Regions from separate parts of the Homo sapiens genome. Here region 2 is linked to region 1. The links come from fine-mapping of genetic effects on gene expression. Tissue or cell type: whole blood. Region 1 holds a variant in brackets; the other region holds the start of a gene. All regions are shown on one strand. Distances are between the middles of the regions.

Region 1 (12,653 bases):
GGCGTGCCCCATGCGTGGAGGAGTGGCCCATCTCCCCAGGGGTCCCCTGGGTCTTGTAGGCACTGATCACAGCCACTCACTTGACACCGTTGAGTGTCAGCTACATGCCATGCCCTGTCCTAGGGTGCCCCAACATGGGCCCTGCTCTCAGGAACCTGAGCATTCACTGGGGGTGGCACCCGCAAATGTGTCAGCCAATCACCAGAGCCCCTTCAGAGGTGGCAGGTGCTAGGACAGTAGAGGGGCAGGGTGAAGGGGTGGAGAGATGGGAGGCCCCTCAGGAGGTGGCCTGGAGGCAGGAGCTGATCCTGTGCAGATGTGGAGAGGCCGTTGGGATGGTGAGTGCAGAGGCCCTGGGGTGGCTGAGGTGCACAGTGGGGTGTGGAGGCTGGAGGGACATCCAGGGGCACATCGTGGCATCTGTGGTGATCTGCAGCCTGCGCCCAGTACTTTGTCCTGTTCCTTTCGGGGCTTGGCCACACCGCAGCTGCCCAGTGAGTGTGTGAGGGGCTGGTCTGTTTAACTGCTTGCCCTGAAGGTGCGAGGAGAGCCTGTTCGCCTTGCATCCAGTGGGCCAAGCTTACATAGATCCCATCTCCTCTGCATACCCTCAGCATCCTGATCTATAAAATGGGAGTGAATATAGCACCTTCAGCCACACCACCAGCCTGCCTGCGGCCCCTGCCTCCTGCCCGGCCTCCTCTGAGGTCAGTGCCTTCAGCTCCTGCTGCACTGGTGGCCACCGCCTGCAAGTGCTTATGTCGGCCTCTGTCTCTGCAGGACGACGTGAACAGGCTGCGGCTGTCACTGACGTGTCTTCCTTCGTGTTTGCCGTGGGGGGCATATAATTGCATTCCTCATGAGGGAATGACACAGAAAGGGCAGGGGGTGTCAGCAGGGGCCGCTCTGTAATTTCCATGTCTGGGACGGATTTCAGGACTGAGCTGTTTTCCTCTTTGACCCGGCAGAGGCTGTTGCCCAAGTCAACAGTGGTGCGTTTTTGAATTTGTCTTTGTTGGTTTTCTTTTTCCCTTTCTTCTTCTTTTTAAAATAGGTCTTTTTTTTTTTTTTTCCATCCTATGAAATAAAACTGGAGACTTGGTTGTAGTGGGTAAGAATTAGCAGTTCCTGTCCTTTTGGTGTGGGAGTTGGGCGGGGGTTGACTTAAATATTTATTTCCCATTAAGGGATTCATGGGCTTGGACGCTTGTGTTGGAATGGGGTGATCTCAAATCTCACTCATGATTTTCGACCCCTGTAGGACTTGGGCCTGCCTTTGGGGGACGCGGGGACGCAGGGACGCATTGAGCAGAAGCTGCAAGCGGATGACCCATGGGCCAAGTCAAGTCTGCTGACGTGTTTTACTTGGCCCACACAGTGGTTTTTTTTTTTTTTTTTTTTCTTAAAGCTTCAGTAAGTTGTCTGCCTTTAAAGTTGGGAGCATTCCCCTAAAAAGTTCCGGATATCCATTTTCTAATAATAACAACAGAAGCAAACATTTCTATGTGACTTACCACAGGCCTGGCTCAGCTCTAGACGACTCCCATCCCTTTGCTCCTGGGATCCCCAGACAGTTCCGAGGTGGTGCTTCCTGTGATCATCCCCATTCTACAGCTAAAGAAGCAGAGGCAGGCCTTTAACCGGGCACTCCTGGCTGTGCCCATGTTCCTGTGTGGCCACCCCTTCAGGCTGGGCACGGCCTCTCCACTCCCCCAGCCTCCTAGCCCACTGTACTCAGGTTCCCCCCTGCTCAGAGCTTGTGGGCGTGGACTTTGTACCCCCCGGGCTTGGAGAGGGCAAGGTGACTGTGGGAGTCCAGCTGCTGCTCCTTAAGTTGAGTTGTCTGTCACTGACTTACCCTCCCTCCCTCTCTCCCTACTGTCTCCATTCTTCTCTTTCCCCCTTCTTTCTCCTGCACCCTCTTTTTCCATTCCTCCCTTCCCCCTTCCTTTCTCCGCTCTCTCTTTCCTTCACTCCCTTCCTCCCATTCATCTGGTGCTTACCGGGGGCCACCAGGTAGGCACGTCGCACACTACTTCTGCTTCATGTGAGGGGTTCATGGTGGCTTCTCCCTACCTTCAGACCACACCTCTGGTGGGAGGTGCTGCGTGAGGATCCCAGGGGTGAACTGAGTCAGGTCAGAGGAGCAGGGAGCCCCAGCCCCTGGTGTCTTCTTACTGTGTGGTCTCTTCCGTGTCACCGCACTTCTGTGGAAGGGGAATGATGGGGGAAGTGGAGGAACCACTGTCCGCCTGCGGAGGGGCCTCAGTGTTGGCCGTGCTCATGGCGCCCTCCTCCTGGGGCTCCCTCTCCTCTGGTCCTGCCTCTCCTGCACGCCCTTCCTGCCTCCTTGGTGCCAGGGGAGCCAGCCCAGGACAGTCTCTGTGCCTAGGCCCTGCCAGCCTGGCTGCCCTGCCTCCAGCCATGGGGGGCGGGCGGGGAGGGAGTCGACCAGTGCTTGTCTTTGCAGAACTGCTGGTGGACTGAATGTGGTTCTGGGGGTGGCCAGGCCTGAGGGTAACTCATTTTGGAAGGTTTGGGATGTCACTTCACTTAAGGAGCCTTCAGCAACATGGAGTTTAAGTGGCCCTCTTCACCGTGGCCTTGTGGCTTCATGAATGGAGCTGCTGTGGTCAGCATGGCTGGCCCTCTGGAGAGGAGGGTGGGCCATGAGGAGAAGATGCTGTGTCTGGAGGCCTTAACCCTTTCCTCCCTTCTCTCCCTCCCTCCCTCCTGTCTCTTTCTCTCTCTGTCTCTTTCTCTCTAGGTGCATAAAAAAAATTGCTTTCAGATAAAGTTGACATGCAATAAACTGCATATTCTCCCTTTGCTTTTAAAATGATGATCTGTTTCAGCCATGCAAAGCAGGGTATAAAATAATATTTCAGTGTAACCACTCAGCGGAAGAAATAAACCATTCCAGTTGCAATACCTGATGTACCGTTCTCTGATTTCAAACCCTTCCTTTTCTCTGCCCCGACTTTGATGTTTATTCTTGTGCATATTTTTGTACTTGTACAACTACATACTCTTATAGAACACTCCATAATGTTTCCTAGATTTTTTTTTTGTTATTATATAGCTTTTATTTCACAATCATAAACTTAACTCAACTCTGCAATCCAGCTAGGCATGGAAGGGAACAAAACATGGAACCCAAAGGAAACTGCAGTGAGAGCACAAAGATTCTAGGATACTGTGAGCAAATGGGGCAGAGGGGTGCTCTCCTGAGCTACAGAAGGAACGGTCTGATGGTTAAGATAAAACACAAGTTGCTGGGTGTGGTGGCTCACTGCCGTAATCCCAGCACTTTGGGAGGTTGAGGCAGGTGGATCATGAGGTCAGGAGATCAGGACCATCCTGGCTAACACGGTGAAATCCTGTCTCTACTAAAAATACAAACAAAATTAGCTGGGTGTGGTGGGGGGCGCCTGTAGTCTCAGCTACTTGGGAGGCTGAGGCAGGAGAATGGCATGAACCCGGGAGGCAGAGCTTGCAGTGAGCTGAGATTGCTCCACTGCGCTCCAGCGTGGGTGACAGAGTGAGACTCCTTCTCAAAAAAAAAAAAAAAAGATAAAACATAAGTCAAACTTTATTCAAGTTGTCCACAGTTAGCAATAGTGATCTTCTTGCTGGTCTTGCCATTCCTGGACCCAAAGTGCTCCATGGCCTCCACAGTCTTCACGTCTTCTTTCACCTTGCCGGAGACCACGTGCTTGCGTTCAACCACTCAGTCTTGGCAGTGCGTGTGGAAAACTGGGAACCGTTTGTGTTGGGTCCAGCATTTGCCATGGACAAGATGCCGGGACCTGTATGCTTTAGGATGAAGTTCTCATCTTCAAATTTCTCCCCATAGATGGACTTGCCACCAGTGCCATTACGGCGTGTGAAGTCACCACCCTGATACATAAACCCTGGAATGTTCCTGTGAAAGCAGGAACCCTTATAACCAACTCCTTTCTCTCCAGTGCTCAGAGCGTGAAAGTTTTCTGCTGTCTTTGGAAACTTGTTTGCAAACAGCTCGAAGGAGATGCGGCCCAAGGGCTCGCCGTTGACAGCGATGTCAGAGAACACAGTGGGGTTGACCATGGCTGATAGAACAGGTTTCCCGACGGCGCCGGTGTCTGCAGAGTGGCCATGTTTCCTAGATTGTAAAGTTTCATATAAATAGTATCATTACTTGGGCCTTCTTGTGCAACTTGCCTTTTTAGTTTGCTTACTTTCTGTATATGAGATCCATTGTATGAAGAAGCCGTGGCATATTTATTTATGCATTCTGTTGATGGTCTTCTAGATTGCTTCTAGATTTTTGCTGCTGTAAACAATGCCACAGTGAACATCTTCATAGATAATCTCCATTTACAGGAATCCAAGAGTTTCTCCCATTTCCTGTTTCTTCTCCCTCCCACCCCTTCTTTCCTTTTGTCCTTACTTCCCGACGTCAGCCAAGTTCAGCTTCTCAGGCTCCCTAAGGATCTTTAGGAGACGGTGAAGATGAATGAAAAGACCCCAGCCCCAGCGTGGAGGTCAGGGCTCCTGGGTTTCAGCCTCAACTTGGTGGACCTCTTTGGGCTTCATCTATAGTAGGACCATTTTTATCTCGTGGGGCTAATTCATGCCGCGTTGAGCTGAGCACCTGGGCATATGGTTGATGCTTGAAAAATGGCAGCTGGTTGTGTCTATCTTCTGATTTTGAAGATACACATCGGGCTTGGAAATGTCGGCCCTGAACTCTTTTTTTTTGAAATGGAATCTTGCTGTGTTGCCCAGGCTGGAGTGCAGTGGTGTGGTCTCGGCTCACTGCAACCTCAGCCTCCTGGGTTCAAGTAATTTCCTGTCCCAGCTTCCTGAGTAGCGGGGATTACAAGCTTACACCACCACACCCACGCCTGGCTAATTTTTATATTTTTAGTAGAGACAGGGTTTCACCATGTTGGCCAGGCTCGTCTCGAACTCCTGGCCTCAGTTGATCTGCCTGCCTTGGCCTCCCAAAGTGCTGGGATTACAGGCGTGAGCCACCGCACCTAGCCTGAATTCTTAAGGGGTAGATACAGGGCAGGGTATGGACTGTGCATCCAGGTCCCCTCCTTTCCCACTGAAGGCAATGGCTGCCCTCCCTGTGTGAAGGCGGCTGGACTGTCGTCATCAGCACTCAGAACTCCTTGCTCCTGCATGTAAGACTCCGGGATCATATAATATTTAAAAATGCAGCAGCTTAAACACAGCAGAAGCTTGTTTGTTTTCTCTCGTATAAAGGAAATCTAGGGTCTAAGTCGTGTGAGGGTTGCCGTGGCTGGCCTGTGGCTTTGAGGGCCTAGGGCCCCTCCATGTGGCTGCTCCTCCGTTCTTAGCACCATGGGCCAAGAGAGGCTCAAGTTCCTGCCATTTTGCCTGCCTTCCAGTTAGTGGGAAATGGGATCTTACCATTTCGTTTGCATTCCAGTTAGCAGAAAGTGGGAGTGGCAGGGGAGTGGAAAAGGACTTCTGCCCTGTTAAGGTGACTTCTGCTTTCACCTTACTGGCCAGACCATCATGTGGCATCCCCGGCTGCAAGAGCATCTGGGAAATGTAAGTGGGAGCCATGAATCCCACCCCACAGCAGGATTTTTATTATTGAGAAGGGAGAGGAGGCCAGAATAGGGTGTTGGCATGGGCCACGCTAGCCATCTCTGCCACTGCCCTTCCCCCCCACCCCAGAAAGTATCCCAGGGCCAGTCTCCACTTCACTCTTGGGAAGGCGAAGGCTGGTCAGGGAGACACATTGCGTGGGCATTCCCTCAAGCTTCCGGAACAGGCCATCCTTTGAAAGCCACTCACATGTAGCACAGTGGAAGGAAGCAAGGCTTTTACAGGGGCAGAGGGAGTGGTAAGGTATCAGCAAGCCGTAGAGTAGAACAGGGAGCCGACAGTTCTGCATGGCGCCAGCAGCTCCTGGGAAGGGGTTGTAGGGCCGAGATTTTGGCGTCCTGTATGGAGAGGAGCAGCCTGCCGGAGAAGATAGTGAGCTCCCTGAGAAAGCAGGTGTGCAAGCAAAGGTCAGATGGACATGTGTCAGTCAGGGAGGCCACCGAGTGCGTTCTAGATCCAGAAAGCACATTCATGGAATTCCATTGAGGAATTATGGAAGGGATCTCATGCAGGGATGGTGAATGCACAGACCATGTGTGGTCCCCTCCACCCTCCAGCCCTTGTTGGTCCTCCTGGTGCCCTGCAGAGCCGCAGCCACCCCAGAGCCTCCCGGTGGGAAGAAGTTGGCACCTGAGATAAACCCATTTGCTTTTCCCACTTGAATTCAGTTCTCTTGTTCCTATAGGTGTGGACGTTGAGGGCCAGCCTGGAAGCGCCATATCCAGAGGCACTCAGGGAGGGGAGCAGGAGACCCAGGGCTCTGGGATTCAGGTCCCTCTGTCACACCCTGCCCTTCTTCTGGGTCTTTCTTCCCCACCTCCCAGCCAGAAATTGCCTCCTGGAGCCAGCCCAGCCTCGTCTTGTTCATTGGAGCTCAGTTGGAGACCCGTCCTCACCCGAAGCAGGGTGAGAGGACAGCACCTGCCACCTTTAAGTCTGGGCTTTGCTGGACGCCTAGGAGAAGCCGGGTCCTCAGGCACTCGAGTGGGAAGTGAAAGTGTGCACCAGCTCTTTAGTTCTGCTATTGACCGGACAGGGTTTTTCCTGGGGGGAGGGGGAAGGAGCTGCTGTGTTTTCTTTGCTTAATCTGGCCTTG[C/T]CCCACAGAGAAAACACATGCGTAGCCTCCATCCTGTTTGTAAAGAGGGCGGTCAGCTACTCGAAGTTGCTCGCCTGGAAAAACTGGGAAGATGTCATCTCCTATGGTAAGGAGGTGGGGGCTACAGGTAGCTGAGGTGGGCAATGAATGTCTTGAGGGACTGTCAGCATGTGACCTTTTTTTAAATGGTGATAAAATACACGTAACATAAAATGGGCCATTTTAACCAGTTTTAAGTGTGCAGTTCATTGAGTACGTTCACATTGTTGCACAACCATCACCCCCATCCATCTCCAGAACTTTCTCATCTTCTCAAACTGAAACTGTCCCCATTAAATGTTAACTCCTAGTCCCCCTCCCCCAGCCCCTGGCAGCCACCATTCTCTCTTCATTTTCTATGACTTTGACTCCTTTAGGGACCACATATGAATGGGTTAATATAGGATTTGTCTTTTTCGTGTCTGGGTTATGATTATTATTATTTTGCTTTTTTTGTTGAGGTGAGATTTACATAACATAAAATCAACCATTTTAAAGTGAAGAATTCAGTGATATTTAGCCACTACCACCTCTGTCTAGTTCCAAAACATCGTCACCCCAGAAGGAAATCCTGTACCCGTTAACAGTCACTCCTCTTTCCCCCTACCCCCGGCTCTTGAAAACCAACATATGACTTTAAATTTGATTTGCATTTGCATATATTAGGCCCTCTACAAATGTATGCTGAATGAATGAAAGAAAATCCTGGCCAGCTGAGAAATAATGATGAAAGCTTGGATTTCTTGAGTGCCTACTTTGTGCCAGGTCCACATAAGCATGTGTGGTTCTCAGCCCTGGCCGCACAATGGGATCACCTGGGGATCTTCGTAACCCCCAAAACCCAGGCCCCACCCCAGAGACGCTGATGGCTTTGGTCTGGGGGAGGTCTGGGCCATAGCCTTTTCCGAGCGATTCTAACATGAGAGTGAGTGGTAGGCAGTATTTCCTTGGGTCATAGCAGTCCTTTGGGGTAGGTAATATTATCTCCATTTTGTGGATAGGGAAACAGGTTATAGAGGTCAGGTAACTTACCCAAGCTCTCTCAGCTTCAAATCTCCATCTGAGGCCAGGCGTGGTGGCTCACGCCTGTAATCCCAGCACTTTGGGAGGCCGAGGTGGGCAGATCACCTGAGGTCAGGAGTTTGAGACCAGCCTGGCTAGCGTGGTGAAACCCCATCTCTACTAAAAATATAAAAATTAGCCAGGCGTGGTGACACACACCTGTAATCCTAGCTACTCAGGAGGCTGAGGCATGAGAATCGCTTGAACCCGAGAGGCAGAGGCTGCAGTGAGCCAAGATCGTGCCACTGCACTTCAGCCTGGGCGACAGAGTGAGACTGTATCAAAAAATAATAATAAAATCTCCACCTGAGTCCAAAGCCCTGACCCATTCTGCTGCTCCAGCCTCCCTCTGTTGTTTTGCAGGTGATTTTGGAAGGGGCACCTGTTGCTACTTATGTGTTTGCTATGGGGTAAAATAATTAAAAACTATCTAATTGGGATTTATGGGGTGCCAGCTGTATGCCAGGCACTGATTCACGTTCTCTCATTTTACCTTTACAGCCACCTTGTGCAAGGGGACTGTTATGATGACATCAGTTTCCCCAACATTGTTGGGAAAGGACGGGGGTGGTTTGCCTCACTTATCATGGAGGGAGTCTCCCCTTGGCCCTCCTGGTGGGGACCTCAGCTGAAGCAGAGTGGGAAAGAAGCCTGTGTGTGATGTCAGGGTGGGGTCCAAAGTTGAGGCTGAATGCAGTGTTTTCACGGGATGGCTTTGACATCGGTGAGAGCTGCTCTGCCCAGTTTGAACTAGTGGTGGGCCATTGAATGGAGCTGGAGAAGCTGTGCACACCTCAGGGCTTTGGCCCGGCTGTCTCCCTCAGCTGCACATGGTTTGTCCCTCCTATTTGCGTTTGAGATTTTTGATGGCTGTGGGACTCATGATTTATTCAACAAATATTGTTGAGACCTGATAGCTGGGCGCCGTCTGGGGCTCTTAGGAATATGCGGTGATGAGACAGGCACAGTCTCCATTATCCTCATGGTCTGGCAGGTGGTACGGATTGTTGTGTCACCCTCATCTGGGTGTGCCGGGCCCTGTCTCTGCATGAGCTCCCTCATTCCAGCCTCATGGCAGGTGTACAGGTGAGGGCCTTGAGCGACTGTGTGTAACAGATGAGGACAGGGCCGCTCAGGAAGGCTGAGAAGCTTTCCCAACGTTACACAGCTTGTGAGAAGCGGAGACTGAAATTGAATGTGAGCTGATGGCTTCAGAGCTTGACTAAGTAACACTGACAGATAATTATGAAAGAGGAAGTCCAGGGAGCATCTGCGTGGGATGGGGCCATGCCAGGGCCAGAGCGGCTCCCAGAGGGTGCTGTTTCAACTGAGGTCTTGGGGGGATGGGTACACTAGTTTCCTGTGGCTGCTATGACAAATGACCACAGGCTTTGTGGCTTAAAGCAACACAAAGTTATTATCTTACAGTTCTGGAGGTCAGAAGTCCACAGTGAGTCTCGTAGGGGCTAAAGTTGAGGTGTTGTCTTTCTGGAAGCCTAAGGGAAGGGTCTGTTGCCTTTTCCATTATCTAGAGGCTGCTCGCATTCCTTCCCTCGTGGCAGCATCACTCCAACCTCTGCTTCAGTCTTCACATCTCCTCTGGCTCTGGCCCTCCCGCCTCCCTCTTTTTTTTTTTTTTTTGAGAGGGGGTCTCACTCTGTCACCCAGGCTGGAGTGCAGTGGCGCAATCTTGGCTCACTGCAACCTCTGCCTCCCGGGTTCAGGTGATTCTTGTGCCTCAGCCTCCTGAGTAGCTGGGATTATAGGTGTGCGCCACCACACCTAGCTAATTTTTGTATTTTTAGCAGAGACAGCGTTTCACCATGTTGGCCAGGGTGGTTTCGAACTACTGACCGCAAGTGATCCACCCTCCTTGGCCTCCCAAAGTGCTGGGATTATAGGCATGAGCTACCGGGCCTGTCCCTGCCGCCTCTTATAAGGACCCTGTGGTTACACTGGGCTCACCAGATCATTCAGGGGCACCTTCCGTCTCAAGATCCTCAGCTTAAGCAACTCTAAGGGTCCCTTTGCCATGTCAGGCCACATAGTCACAGGTTGAAGGGAGTAGGATGATTAGGGCCATTATTGTGCCTATCATAGCAGGGGAGAGTGAGGCTGGTGGGCAGGCAATCTAAGGCCTGGAGGTGAGTGGGTGCTTGGCTTTGGAGGGGTGCTGGGCGCCTAAGTACCTGGAGGAGGAGCTCCTGGAGGGGAGGGTGAGACAGCAGAGGGCCTTTTAAGTCATGGGGCAGACTGGGAGTTGGTCACCTGCTAAGTAGCTTCTGGAGAGAGGACCTCTGTTCCCACTTGAGCCTGGTGGACATGCGTGTCCCAGGAGGACGGTGTGTGTTGGGGAAGCCCCTGCCCCTCCCCCACCTAGGAGCTTCCCTTTCACAGTGACAGGAAGAGGGAGAGCTAGGAGCATAATGTGCTTTGGGCAGGAAATGCAGGCTGCATCTTCCCATTGCTGGAGAAGGTGACAAACCCGGGCTTCGGAGTCACTGGGGCTGGGTTTGAATCCAAACTCCACCACATCCTAAGCTGAGCCCGTTCCCAACTGTAAAATGGGGGTGAGATAGGGCCTGACTCACAGGGTCAGCCCTGGGGTCAGCGAGGCAGGTCATGGGACGCTGTTGGTGCACAGGCATGCCTGCTTGCTCGTCCGTTCAGCAGATGGCGGTGGCGCGTCCACTGTGCACCAGGCACCATTGCAGGCACGGAGCAAAGCAGGCATCATCCTGGCCTACTTGGAGCCCCCATTCTACTGGAGGAGAGGAAAATGAACACGGAAATATAGAATCTTGTCTGCTGCCACTAAGTGCTGTGGAGGAAACCATCAGACGAGGGAGGACAGAAGTATTGGTATGAATGGGGAGGGTGTGGCGTCTGTGTGTGGTGGCCTTTGGAATAGGGTGACCAAAGAAAATCTGGATGAGAGGTGACACTTGAGCAGGTTTGGAAAAGGTAAGGGAGGAAGCTGTGCATGTGCAAAGGCCATGGGGCAGCGGCTAAAGGAGGTAAAGGAGCCATCCACAGCATGTGCAAAGGCCCTGGGGCAGCAATTTACCTGGTTTTTTTTCTAGGAATGCAAGGAGGTAAATGTGGATGGAGCAGAATGTGCCTTGAGGAGGGTGGCAGGAGGTGAGCTCTGTGAGTCACTAGTGGGGTCAGATGGTGTAGGGCCTTGTAAGAACTTTGGCCGTTAACTCTGAGGGAGAGGAGAGAGCTGTGTCTGCTCTAATACATTCAGGAAAGTGGCAGCTCTGAAGACCGAAGTGCCTCCTGGCTTGCCTCTCTCCCTCCCGCAGCCTCTTCCTCTTCCTCTTCCTCTTCCTCTTCCTCTTCCTCTCCCTCTCCCTGACCCTCCCCCAGCTGCCCACTGTTTTGTGGGGATTGATTGGGCCCATTGAGGCCTGCTGCCTGGAGTAGCAGCCTTGCCCACAGTCCAGTCTGGGGACCTTTCTCGGCCATCCCCTCCTCCAGCTATCCTCAGTGTTGGTCACTTATGGCTTTTGCTATTTATATAGCACAGTGGTTTATAAACTCTGCTTCTAGAATTTCGCAACCCGTCCTGCAGCATGTTATCTGTCCAGGCAGATAGTGGCGATCTTTATCCAAATCAAAGGACTGAAATTAAGGGGATGGAATTGTCTGCATTTTATGTTTTCCACCCAACATATTTTGTCATAAACTGGGAACTTGTGTAAGGTGGCATCCAGTTTAGTTCAATCCTGTATGTAATCATTTCAAGCTTAATAAATTAGTTAATATTTGTTAAACACCTACTGTGTCTTGGGGTTTCTGCGAGATGTGAGATTCATTGGCGGACAAACCAGATAGCGTTTTTGCCAAGTCACCGAGATAGTTTCAGGTCCTTGGCCATCATCTTTTTCCACCAACTCCAGGTCAGCTCAGGGGCCCACCAGGTGGAAGTCGCCCTTCCCTGGCGGACCTCGCCCGTTCCCATTCCTTCTGGCAAAGTCAGATTTGGTGAAAAGGCCACAGCAGCTGGGTGGAGTTCCACTTGCCAGCTCGAGGAAGAGTTCTGGGAGGCACGGGAAGCCAAAACCGCCTGTGAAGGAGGCCTGGTGCAGCTCAGAAAGCCCTGGCTCTGGCCGAGGTTTGGGATGTGTGGCTGCCATGGCAACCCGTCTCCCCGACGAAGGGTAGACGGGTTGGGCGCCGAACGCAGGGTGTTGCAGGTTGGGCTCCATTTTGACTCTGGTGGAGAACGATCACCTGGCTGCAAAACCAACCTCCCCGCCCAGTACAAGCATCTCCTCTTCCCCCTTGGGCCACGAGGGTGGGGGACTTGAGGCAGGAGTGGGTTTTTGTAGTGGGGTCATTGGGTAATCATCTCCGGCTCTCTGCTGCAGTTGGTGCGCACAGACCCGGCTAGTTTAAGGCCATTGATGGGACTCCTGTAGACGCTAAGCGATGGAAACATTGTGCGCATCCAGTACTCGGCGTGCTCTGGATGGGGCTGGAAGATGCCAGGTGGGCTTCTGAAACGAGTGTGGGGTTCACTCTACCTTTGATCTTTGCCTGCCCGGGTGTCCTCATTCATTTAACTCTTGGCTTCCTTATTCCTCTGTCCTTATCCCCTTCCTAGGAGTGGGGTCTGCTCAGATATACCCTCTTCCCTGCCTCTTTCCCTCCCTCCCCTCCTGCCTTCCTCCTCCTACCCCTGAAAACCTCTTTTTTTTTCTGTCCAAGGCTTTCTTGGGCGAGTTTAGAGCAGCAGTTTCCAACTTGAGCTGCGCATTGGAATTACTTGAGGAGCTTAAAAAATGTCCTGATGCCTGACTCCACCCCCAGAGGTTGAGAT
Region 2 (12,653 bases), 34 kb before region 1:
ACAATATGATCTCCTGAGACTGTGACCCACAGGATGACTGATGAGGAGGTGGCTGACACCACAGCATCCTCTGCCAGCTGAGAGGGAGAAATAAACATCTTCCTTGAAACCAGGGGTGATTTTGCCTCCTAGGTGACAAAGGCGGGCGCGGTGGCTCACGCCTGTAATCCCAGCACTTTGGGAGGCCAAGGTGGGCGGATCATGAGGTCAGGAGATCAAGACCGTTCTGGCTAACACAGTGAAACCCCGTCTCTACTAAAAAATACAAAAAAAAAAAAAAAAAAAAAAAGTAGCCGGGAGTGGCGGTGGACGCCTGTAGTCCCAGCTACAAGGTCCAGAGAAATTTTTGGTTGTTATGACTTGCGGATGCTCCTAGCATCCAACAGGTAGAGGCCAGGGATGCTGCAGAACATCTCAGACTGCACAGGACAGCTGCCTGCCACAAAGTGTCATCCATCCCAAATGTGAATAGAGCCCAAGTTGGAAACCCTGCTTCCAATCCTGCAGAGATGCTGTGTCTAGAGTGTCTATACCCAGTTGCTGGGCGAATGGGAAAGATTCAGAGAGGTGGTCTGGATGGAAGGCCCGTTGCCACGGTCATGCCAATACGGGTTCTAAAATAACGGTGGTAATGTGAAATAGCTAACACTATTGTGAGTGCTTACTCTGGGCTCGGCTTGATCATCTCACTGAATTTCTGCGACCTGGGAGGAAGGTACTATGACGACTCCACTTGACGGTAAATCAATCAAAGACACATACAGCTGGTAAGCAAAAGAGCAGAGAGTTTGTTTTTTTCTTGGTATACTTTTTTGGGGGGCGGTTGTGATGATTTTTTGTGAGGGCGTCTGGCTTTCCCACATGACTGTGAGCTCCCATGAGGACAACATCATATGTGTGATGGAGCTGCAGTATCCGGCAAAGTCCCTGCCACTCAATTCGGTGCTAATAAACAGGTGTTTAATGGAATCAAATAAAAGAAGGAATGAAGCAGGGTAATGTAGCTCAGGAGTTAGGACACTGGCGTCTCAGCTAGATCCAGCCATTCAACAGATAATCATGGTGCATTTACTTTGTGACATGCCCTGGAGAAACAAGCAGCGGTGTCCTGAAGCCGATCTGTAATGGCTCATGACAGCTGATTGTTAATTTTTCAGAAATTTTGCAAGCTGGTTGTCAAACAGCCAGTAAAAAAAATTAAGTTATGTAAAGTTACAAGTAAATAATATTTTTAAAAGGTAATACAACTCATCACTTCCTAATTATTTTACTACATTTTGCCGGTATCTCTCTTCTTGAAGTTATTTATGTCGATTGTAGCGGTCGCCAAACTTTTTCTGTAAAGGGGCCAGAGAGTGAATATTTTAGGCTTTGCAGTCCATGGCTGAATCTGGCCCCTTGCTGGTGTATTGTATCTGTGTGGTGGAAACTCTGCCGTGGGGTGCATGTCTTCCTAACTCCATGTCCAAGGACACATGTTGGTAGCTTGTATAATAATTGGCCATGGTGGTTGTATTTGCACCAGGGAAATTGTCAAACTTTATAGATCAGGCTTTCCTTTTTTCAGCAGGCTGACTATTGAACACGACCCTGGATACAGTGGTGAGCAAAACCAGAATGAACCCTGCCCGCTTGGAGGGTACAGTGCAGTGCATTGGGGTTTGTGCACCATTTCATGGTGGGGTGGGGCAAGGAGAGAGAGCTGTGCAGAGGCTGGAGTGGATCTCCACTGGAGACTGCTGGTTGTTAAACAGCCAGTTAAAAAAAAGATTAAGTTATGTAAAGTTACAATTAAATGAATAATATTTTTTAAAAGGTAATACAACTCATCGTTTCCTAATTATTTTAGTACATTTTGCCGGTATCTCTCTTCTTGAAGTTATTTATGTCTATTGTAAGGGTTGCCAAACTTTTTCTGAAAAGGGGCCAGAGAGTGAATATTTTAGGCTTTGGAGTCCATGGGCTGAATCTGGCCCCTTGACTATAGTTGCTGACCCCCCATGACAATAGTTGCTGAGCTCCCATGAGGGCAGCATTTTGTGTGCTATGGATCTGTAGTACCCAACACCGTCCCCGGCCCTCAAATAGGTGCTAATAAACAGATGTTTAATGGAATCAAATAAAAGAAAATGAATGAAGCAGTGTCACGTAGCTCAGGGGTGAGGACATTGACATCGCAGCGAGATCCAGCCATTCAACCGAAAATCACTATGCATTTACTTTGCCCGCTTCATTCATTCTTTCTTTTATTTAATTCCGTTAAACACCTGTTTATTAGCACCTATTTGAGGGCTGGGGACGGTGCTGGGTGCTACAGATCCATAGCACATAAAATGCTGCCCTCATGGGAGCAGGGGGAACATCCACTTACAGGTGTGGCTGCTGGAAGGCGCCTCAGCTCAACCTCTCCTAGGCTGCCCCTCAGCTCCACTGCTCTCCTCCCCAACAGGTACTTTGCCACCTCATCAAATTCCTTAATGGCAGCCTGGGTAGCGGGTGTGTCTTTCCCTTCTGAGTTAGCTACAGGGGACACCTCAGAGAACTCGAGTTGAGACTGTGCCCATGAAGGCACTTTACTGTTCAGTTTGGCATCCCAGCTCCTAGCATTGAGTTGATCGAGTGGGTCCTCCACCAGTGTGGCCCGGGGTGACCCCACAGTGGGCTGTTGAACGAAAGCGGTAGTTCAGGTGAGGGCACACGTCATCCTTTGGAACCTGGCTCAAACAAGGAGACACCGCCAGCAAAGAATGCAGAAAATGACAGGTTTGTCTGGTGAACTGGCCTCTGGTTAGTGAACGAGCCTGCGAGAGCCCAAGGGGAGTGAAGGGTGCGTGAACCGCCGTGCCCTTCCTGCTACTCCGTAAGCTTCTCAAGTTCAGTGTTGGAAGGGGAGGCTCTTAGGGGCTCGGACCATTCTTTGGAGGGTCTGGAGTTCCAGGGCATTGAGCACAACTCGGGGACATGGTCCATCCACGGGAGCTCGACGGGCTCATGTTTCCTATAATTTGGGGAGCTCCAGGGATGGGGCTCTGATGGAATCTGATGGCTGGATTCAGATTCCTTTCTAGGTTGGGAGCCTGGGATAGTGGAAGGTGGAGGGGCTCTGCAATGAGTTAGCCAAATCCCAGTCTAGGAGGCTGTGGACTCAACTGTCACACTGTCACAGACTGAGTACTAACGCCATCCCAGCTCATCCCCCGCAACTTACTGACCCAGTCCTGTGGCTGGACCTTTGCTAAGCACCAAGGAGTATGTTTTTGACAATCAATCCCTGTGTATTTGCTGCACCCCAGCTTTGTCCAGGCACTGAGCTAGTGCTGTTGCCAGACAGGCGCTTCTGGCTTCTGCCCTCAGGAACTTTCTTTGCCGTGTCTTGGGGGCTCCATTTCACTGATTTGAAACTATATTCAAGAAATACTGCTATTTAAAGAGGACACTGATTGAATTCAATACTTTCTTCCTGAATGCCTGCTCAGGACAACATTACAAAGACAGACATTTGTAATGTCCTCCTAAATTCCCAGAGGAGTGGGAAGCACATGGAATTTGAGGTCGAACAGAATCTGAGGTTCAAACCTCGGCTGGATCCTGATAGTTGTCTGACCCTGTCTGAGCCTCAACTTCCTCACTTAAGATGGGGATGGTAATAGTTCCTACCTCCTAGGCTGGTGGGGAGGAATAAACGAGAACAAATACATAAGGCCTCCAGCATGGTATCTGGTGCTTGGGTACCGGTCATTATTATCACGGTATGTCCTACTTAATGTTTACAAATCAACCACTGTACTGGGCTGCATGGAGGATGTCTGGAATGGTCCTGGAATATATCAGGGATTTGCATCCTGCTAAATCTCCTCCTTCTACTGGAGTTTTGTGCCCTGTATGGGTAGGGGCGTGTCCACAGATGTCCCCGAAGTGGACAGCAGCTGCTTTGCTTGCCACTGGGCCACTCCACCCAGTGACTTTGTGCTAGCCCTTGTTGCTTCCTTCTGTGGGGGGTAGGTGAGCATGAAAGTCTCCTCACTGGCCTCCTTGCCTCTAGGTTTCTCCTCTGCAATGCTCATCTGTGCCACACTGCAGCCTTTTGAAGAAGCCATGTACAAGTCACTCCTTTGCATGGCCCATGTGGTGTCTCCCCACTGCTCTAGTCCCTGGGTTTGCATTTCAGGGTGCTGCTTGCTCACCGCCTACATCTCTGCTCCACCTCCTCCAGGGACCTTGCACCCCATGGCAAGTGAGTTCAGTTTCCTGAACAAGCTGAGCATCCTCCCATCTCTTTGCCTTGGTAGGAGCCAGTTCGTCTTCTTGGAGCACCTATCCCCTTCTTTACTTGATTCCTAAAGAACTCTTAGAGTACCCTGGTCCCCCACACTGGGTTAGACATCCCCCTTTCTGTTCCTGGAGCACCAAGCACAATGTCTGTTACTGTTCTGGACTCTGACCTCCATGCTTTGTGGTTGAGGATGAGGACAGCACCTATGTCATAGGGTGTGAGAAGAGAATGATGTGTGCGTACAAAATTCTTAGCACATAGGAAGCCTCTGGCCACTGTGGTTATTATAGTCATTACCATTAATACCCTAGTGCCTGGCCTGTGACCAGCATACAGCAGGAGCTCAATGAAAATATTTGAACAAAGGATCTAATCCCACCCGCTTAATGGACTGGGGGGTTTCTTGGCCCCAACCACCCCCCAACACCCACATATCTAGGGCTTGCCCCTTCATGCTTGGTGGTTTTCTCAAGGCTGTTCAAGCTCAAAACTGGAAGGAAATGGCAGCAAATTGTGGGGAGCTAAGGAATTTCTAACTTTCTAATCTAATTGTGCCTCCCCAAGGAGGCATCTCCTGGGCAGGCTGGATGTGAGTCTTCTTTCCTTGGTGAGGGATGCAGCCTGGGACCTGCCTTTCATCCCCTGCCTGAAACCCTGGCCAGGCTCGGGGAGAGGGTCCTCTGGGGAGCACCTTCATGCTGCCTGTTCTTGGGAGAGGGGGGGTGAATAATTTCCACCAACGGCACAGATGCTGTGGATATTCCGCAGTGTTCACGACGCAGTTCAACACACGCTGCACACATTCATGTGTTCACTACAGAGGCGCCTTCACTTAAAAAGGCAAAAATCTAGGGTTTTAACGTTATTAGCTGCAGGAGCACGTGGAGATAAGAAAACCTGGCTGAGGAGCTGAGCATTTGCTAGGTGGCCTTAGGTGCCGGCTGCTTGTGATGGCAGAAAGGGAGCTTTTTGCATCCAGGCTGCAGTTCCTGATACCCTGGGTCACAAGAGAATCGAATATGGTTCTCTCGTGGGCTGGTGCTGGGCCTGTGAACTCAGATAAAATGACCAGGTGGGGTCCCAGGGAAGGTGAAGTAGGGGGAGCTGCTGGGGTGCGCACAAGAGGGGTGGCTGTGTAGGTTGGGGGGTGCTTTAAGTGGGTTCCTAGAAGAGGCTCTGTCTCCCTGGGCAGAAGAAAGAAGGGGGATGGGCGGACCGTCCCCTCTCTCCAGAAGGTTTGAGGACCCCCAAGGCCAAAGCCAGCAGACGTCAAAGGCCAGGAGTTCGAGGCCGGCTGGGTCCCGCAGTGGGAGACAGGGCAGGGTGGGCTCATCCTCCGGATCACCGCGGGGACACTTTCAGTCGGGAAGGCGTCCCCGTCCCACGGCCCCATCTGGCCAGCCCGCTGGACAGCCTGGACAGCGGAGGGGGCGTCAGGGGTCGAGGGTTCCAGTCCCCGTCCTTCCACCCAGCCCCCGGCCCTCGGGTATCCTTCTTTACCCGTCCGAGTCCGGCCCGGGGGCGGCGGGGGTGGGTGAGGCGCGGGCCCCCAGGCTCCGGCAGCCTGGCTGGGCTCCCGCCCGGGCACCCGCGGGGGCGCGGCTGGCGTGACGTCACGCGCCCCGCCCCCGCGCCCCGCCCCCTCCCCACATTCCAGGCGGGGCGGGCCGGGACCCCGCGGGGCTCGCCCGCCCCAGCCCCCTCCCCAGGGGCTGCCCCTCCCGTCGGGCCGCGCCTCCCCGTCGTGGGCCGCGACCCCGCCCGGACCGCGGACTCCGCCCGCGAGAGGCCGAAGCCGCCGCGGCCGCCGCCGTTGCCGCCATTGACGTCAGAGGGGCGGGCACATGACCCTGCGGGGACCAATCGCGCGGGCGCCCCGGGCTCCGGGAGCCCGGCGCGCGGCCCGCCCCGCCCGCGGCCACTCTCGCCCGGACGGCCGCGCGGACACACGCTCTGTACACACGCGCGCGGCGGCGCGGGGCCCCGAGACACGCCCGCCCCCACCCCGCCGCCCCCACCCCGGCGCCCGCCCTCCGCGCCTGGCCCCGGCCCGCCCTCGGCCTCCCCCGCCCCTCCCCGTCGCCCGCCGAGCCCGGTCAGCCGCCGCGAGCATGCACCCGACGAGCTAGGAGGAAGCCCGGAGCCCCGCAGGAAGCGCCGAGGCCGGCCCAGCCCGCCGCACGCGCCGCCCCCCGCGGGCAGCGCCCCCTCCCCTGCGGGCGCCCCCAGCCCCACACCCCCCCACCTTCCCGGGGGGTGGGGGGGTGCGGGCCGCCGGATCCGGGGGCCCCGCCGCCCCAGCAGCCCAGGACAGCCCCCTCTCCCCGCCCCCAGCCCCCTCCCCCGGCGCGGCCATGGATGTGACCAGCAGCTCGGGCGGCGGCGGCGACCCCCGGCAGATCGAGGAGACCAAGCCGCTGCTGGGGGGCGACGTGTCGGCCCCCGAAGGCACGAAGATGGGCGCCGTGCCCTGCCGCCGGGCTCTTCTGCTTTGCAACGGGATGAGGTACAAACTGCTGCAGGAGGGCGACATTCAGGTCTGTGTCATCCGGCACCCGCGGACCTTTCTCAGCAAGATCCTCACCTCGAAATTCCTGAGGCGCTGGGAGCCGCACCACCTAACGCTGGCCGACAACAGCCTGGCGTCCGCCACGGTGAGTGGCTCTGCGCGGCTGCACCCCCGCCTCTCCTCGGGGCCCGAGATGCGCCCTCCCTGGCTGCCCCCTGGCGCTGCACCTGGAGCCCAGGGCCTGGGGGGCGGTGGGGGGTGCCGGGGGAACGGGGAGAACCAGGGCGCCTCGCTCCTGGCCTGCTCGCGGGGCTCGATTTTGGAGTCTGAAGCCCAAACCAGCCGACCGGGCTCAGGAGAGACCCTTAAAATGCTGGAGACTCGGCCCACCGCCAGGCTGGGTGCCTGGGGACCTTCTGCCCCCAGCTCTTGTGTTTCTGGTGGCTGGGACTCGAGGATGGACCCGACGCTGGGCCCTGATGGTGGTGGGGGTTCTCTCTGGAAGCCCCTGGCCCATCTGGATCTGAGGGGTGGGGGAGGGGAAAACAAAATACCACCCCTCAGATTTAAAAAAAAAAACAAACAACACAACAAAACCTCCAAACCCCCAAACCCAAAGAATTTCCAGAAGCCAGTTTCTCTGTTTGGTTTACCCGTCCTTTATTCTCTTTCCTGCCAGGGCTGGCAGGCAGAACGGGGTGCTTCCCTTTCTGAAAATCTCATTCGCACATTGAGAGGTTGGAAGTGGAGGGGGAGGGGGCAGTGGTCCTGGAATATCTCAGGACCCAGCGGTGGTCGAGTTCTAGCCTAGAAGCTGCTTGGTGGAGCCCTGGTCCGGCATTGTCTGTAGAGTGTGTGTATACGTGTGTGTTTTGTTGCTGGAGGTTTAATTTTGTTATTGTTTTTAAATACATGGGTAGGACTGGGTCAGCTGGATGAGTCGGAGAGGAAAAACCATTGATCTGTTTCTGAAATCAGATCTGCAAATGGTGGCCTTCTTCGTACGTGGAGAAAGACAGCTGTGGTGGGGTCGAGGGGAGAGTGGGGGTGGCGGGTAGGAGCCTGAACAGGATGCTTTGTGTTTTGAAACAAGGACAGTTTCAAATACCGGCTGTGGCTTGGGCCTGAGGCTTGCCGTGGGGGTCCCATCCTCATTGGGGGTGTAGCTTGTCTTCCCCAGAATGCACACTCCTCCCTGGGGCCACCGTGATCCTGTTTACTAAGCGCAGTGGGAGGGGGCCGAATCCACTGCCTGCCCACACCTGTGCCAAGAAAACCCAGCCAGGAAATAGGGTGTCGCTTACATGGCATGTCACAAACGTGTAGCGTGTGTAGACATTTCCCTGGCATCCATGTTCCCTTGGCGGTGTGTCACAGGCCATGACACATGCCCCAAGGAATGGGGAGGGGGGAAAAGTTAGCTGAAGAATCCTACTCTTTGAACCAGTCCCCCACCCCCCACCCCAGAGCGTTGCAGCCCTCGAGGACTTTTATTCTTAATTTGGGGTCCGACATGCTTAGAGCACCTATTTTCTCTTTCCTGTGGGCACGTTGGTGCAATATCTGCAAAGACTCCTTTTTCAGGGAGGATTGCTGGTCGCGGGGAGGCGGCCCAGTCCCCGGTCAGGCTGGTGCATGTTCTCAAGCCCGTCCCGCGCCACAGGCCGCAGCATTTGGCTTTCCAATGGATGGAGGCGGGAGAGAGCCTCCGAAAATTTGCCAGTACGGAGTGTTTCTGATGTGGGGAGGAACTGGTGACCGCGGTGCCCCCTGCCTGGATTCTGGAGACCCCAGATCTGGCTTCAGAATTTTCACCTGGCTCAGGGGGACTTTATTGGGCTTTTTTTTTTTTTTTCCTCTTACACTCCACAAAATGAAGGGTTGTTGGTGGTGGGGTAGGAAAATGGTTAGAAGGAACAGTGACCTGCCATGGGAAGGCCAGGAGGAGCCCCTTCTCCCTCTGGGAGAAGCCAGGAGTGAGTGTCCCGCTGCTACCGTCCTGTTTCCGGAAAGCCAGCTCTCGAGGCTAATGCCTCCCCACTTACCTCCGATTGCTCAGGAGGTATATCTGAGAGAAAGAGGGAAGGAAGAAAGACCTGAATAGCCAGAGGCCCCTCGCTCACCTTGGCCAGCCCAGGTAGGTGGCACCATCGGTAGTGTGGGCCTTTCCGGAAAGCACCTGTCTAGTACTGGGGACTGAGGCTTATCCATGGAGCAAGATTCTCTTGGCAGAGCCATGCTCTGGTGTTAGGAAATGTGGCAAGAGGAACTATAAGGAAGTGTTTGATGGACTGGCATAATCCCCTTTCCGCTGCCTTTCGTCACCAAGCACTACAGGCAGGGGGTGTCCTTAAGTCTTACCCTTGCCCTCTGGTGGGCTCCAGGGGGCCTTGCCTCAGGGCCTGTGAGCCTGGAGGTGGGGCTGTGAGGGCTGGCCTGGCTGGAGCGCTGGCCTCCCGGGTAGAGGTGAGGTTGGGACTGCCACCAGGGCTCTCGTCCCATCATGAGACACCTGGTTGGTGTCCAGGCTCTCGGGGAAGCAGCGGAGCCCCTGTGGGGTTTCCCTGAGGCCTGGACATTATGTAATCTGTCTGCGTTTTATAGTGCGGCCCAAGCACTCTATTGAGAAATATGAGCCCAAATAAAACAAAGGTGAATTTGAGTGCAGTTCCCTAGAACAAAAACCCTTTGCAGTCCTGTGGCTTCGCAGCAGCCGCTGGCCCAGCCCTGAGCTCCCGATATTCCAAGTATGTTTCCTATAGAGTCATATCCTTACTTGAAATATCAGTCATCCATATTTTAAGCCATCTACACAGCCCAACTCAGAATCATCTGGTAATTATCTGGTTAATTGTATGGGCTTCAGGAACAAGACCCAGAGTGATTGATAGGGATTCAAACCAATAAACAAGCCAAATACTCTTTTTTGCCCAAACCTTTTGCAGTCTGTTTCCATTGATCCAATTAACCGAATCTGAGAGATTTAAGACCGTGCTTCCAGGAGCACATCTGCATCAGGCTGGGATGCAGGCAGACTCGGGCTCCCAGTCCCACCTGCTGGGTGACACCGGCTAGGTACACCTTTTAGTCTGGGGTCCAAGGGACCTGATAGCCCTCCAGGCTGTCTTACCGGTGGAGCCAGCAGCCTCACCCGCCTGGCCTGCCTGTAAACTTTGCCTCCTGTGGGATCAGGTCGCAGCTTGCCCTGCCCTGGTCTCCTGGGCCAGTTACTGATTAAATCCTTGCAGAGCCAACAGCGTGCCTAATGTGGCTTGTGACGGCCGCCAGGTCTGATGCACCCTGTGCTTGGAGACTTTGGATCCGAAATGCTCGTAAACAAAGGAGGAAGCAGATAGGCGACAGCTGACTTGGGAGGGGAGATAGGGAGGCCAGGGCCCCCTCCCTTGGGGACCCAGGACTGCACCTTTGTGGGGAAGGGCCTGTCTGCCCAGGCTGTGGCCTGAATGTGGTGCCCCATTCCCTCTTTGTACCCAAACTTCCCAGTTCCTGGGCCTCACTGGCTCTTCATGGCTGGTGATGGTCGTGTTGGTTGTAAATGACAGCCAGGGCAGCCAGGGGTTCTGCATAAGCGGCCGGGTTCGGCAGGACCAGAATCCATTTTGCTGCTCTCGTCTGTGGGTTGAATTTGATCACCTGCTAGGCATGTTTGTCCGTGGGCAGAGGGCTTTGTCTGTAGGCTTTGTTTCTTCTGCACCACAGAAGTACAAATAAGCTGCCTACCTTTTATTTCATCTTACTTTTAAGAGAATGTGGCACACGGTATTTCAGAATGGTGGATCCACTCAGAAAGTCCTTTATTCAGGGGTCGGGGCACAGGTGACAGTAGTGTTCTTTATTCTCAAGCCATAATTCATCAGTGGCTTGTTTTTAAATTTTCACCACTCTGCTGTTTGATTGCAATGTTTCTGGGCATCTTGATATGGATGGGAAAGGAGAAGCCACCTTCATTCTCATTGGTTTCTTTAGTCTGGTGTTTTCTGAACTTGGACTTTGTTTAGCACAGGCTTACTGCATGCCTACTGTGTGTCACTTGCTGAGCTAAGAGTTACACATCCACATGGCTTGGTTTCTACCTAAGAATTAAAATCTATGTCCTCCAGGGTAGTCACAGATCCCACGAGAACTCATCTGTGCCCACATGCACGCATGTTAATTGCTTTTTCACTTTTGTTACATACCCCCCTTCCCCCCATGTGCCTAGCCTGCCTTTAATTTATTTGATGTTTTTTTGTGGCAGTAAACACACAGATTTCCCCCCCCCCCTTTCCATGCCATTTGTCATAGGAGGATTTTGGAGTGTATCAAAATTGTTTCCTAGACAACTTGTCTGATTGGAGGTGGTGGAGGGGAGGGGCTGAGACAGAGAGGAGAAAAAGTCAAAATTCTCTGTAAATTGCAAACGTGGTCTGCCTTTCCCAGGCTGTAATAAGTAAGTGCATTTTAAGGAAGGAGTAAGTTTTGATGCTCGCATTTGCCTGGTGCAATCTGAGATGCCTGTTCCGGCCACGGCAACATCATGCCAGTCCAGGTGGAAGGAATTTCACTGCATGTGGCTGAGCTTTCCTGCAAGTGGGTGACAGAGGTGGCAGTTGCTGCTGGCTTGGGCTGCTTGGCCCACAGATTGACTGATGTGGCGGCCCTGCCTGCTCCTTAGTGTCTCATCGGGCAGTGAGAGGGCATTTCTGGGGCACTGTCCTGGGCAGGGCTCAGGGGGACCTGGTAGAAGGCAAAGCTGTCCCAGGGTACCTCAACTGCTGCCAGCCAGGACTGACTCGTCTTGAAGGTACCCAATTGGTGTTTTGTTGGCATGGACATTGCAGGGGGTCAGCTTACACCTTTGATTAAAGGAATACATGAGATTAGGTGAGGCAGCCTGATATGGGGCATCTCCTCTGTGGGGGAGAACAGATTTGGGTTTTGCGTTCTCATGGCGCTGGATCTGGATTTGAAGGGTGCAGTTTCCTGGCTGTGTGACTTTTGGTGCTTTGCTTTCCCTTGCTGGGCCTTGTTTTTCCTCCATCCTTAGGGAGAGCACCTCATGTCTAGGGTTGCTGTAAGGATTGGAGAGGATAGATAAGCACCTACTAGTATAGTCAGCATACAGTGACCAGGATTCCAATTCCTGTTTTGCTAATTGCCCTGAAAGAGCTTCATGACTTTCTGCACAAATGGAAGGGATTATTGTTACCTAAAAATGGGTGGCCTCCAGAGAGTTCCCTGAGATGAATAGTGCATTGGGGAAAGCTAGGGGTGTTTAGCAGGTCTCATAGGTAGGAAGGCAATGAAATTCTTGCCAGCAGTTTAAGAAAAATTCCTTGCGGGGCGTAGTCTAGTTTCTTAAAATAAATTACAAAAATTGAAATACTCATGTATGCATCAGGTAGATTTGATTAGTATAACAAGGTGTTTAATGAAAAATGAAGCTTCCCTTACTCGACGTCCACACAGCCCCTAGTGGCCCTCCTTGGAGGCAAGCACTGCTGCTCATTTCTTGTGTATCTGGACATGCATGCACACAGCTGTCTACCGTGGTTCTTCACTGGACAGTATATTTTGGAGACCCTCCATGCGTGTGCAGCTGCCTTGTTCTTTTTCATTGCTGCATAGTGTTCTGTTGTAGAAGTGTATCACAGTAATGTAGGTAGACCCTCCCCTGTTGATGGGCATTGAGGTTAGTCCCAGCCTCTTTGATATGGTTTGGATGTGTTCCCACTTAAATCTCATCTTGAGTTGTAGCTCCCATAATTCCCTTGTGTTGTGGGAGGGACCCAGTGGGAGATAATTGACTCATGGGGCGCTTTCCCCCATACTGTTCTCTTGGTAGTGAATAAGTCTCACGAGATCTGATGG

The links.
Region 2: CMIP starts here. The variant in region 1 is fine-mapped to the expression of CMIP in whole blood (INTERVAL, PIP above 0.99).

What each region holds. Positions count from the first base shown.
Region 1 is chr16:81,472,431-81,485,083 of GRCh38, forward strand. All of the region lies in intron 1 of CMIP (c-Maf inducing protein), which reads left to right. It also overlaps the pseudogene PPIAP51. Among named protein-coding and RNA genes, the nearest start is that of CMIP, 34 kb to the left of the region's middle. RefSeq lists enhancers at 8,625-8,714, 8,745-8,814. The variant C/T (reference allele first, on the strand shown) is at 6,725.
Region 2 is chr16:81,438,615-81,451,267 of GRCh38, forward strand. It overlaps CMIP (c-Maf inducing protein), which reads left to right and starts at 6,194. Exons shown (of 21, transcript NM_198390.3): 1 at 6,194-6,927. The coding sequence starts at 6,628. RefSeq lists enhancers at 5,035-5,567, 7,732-8,497, 8,498-9,261, 10,028-10,791 and silencers at 5,777-5,876, 5,987-6,336, 6,407-6,456, 6,887-7,186.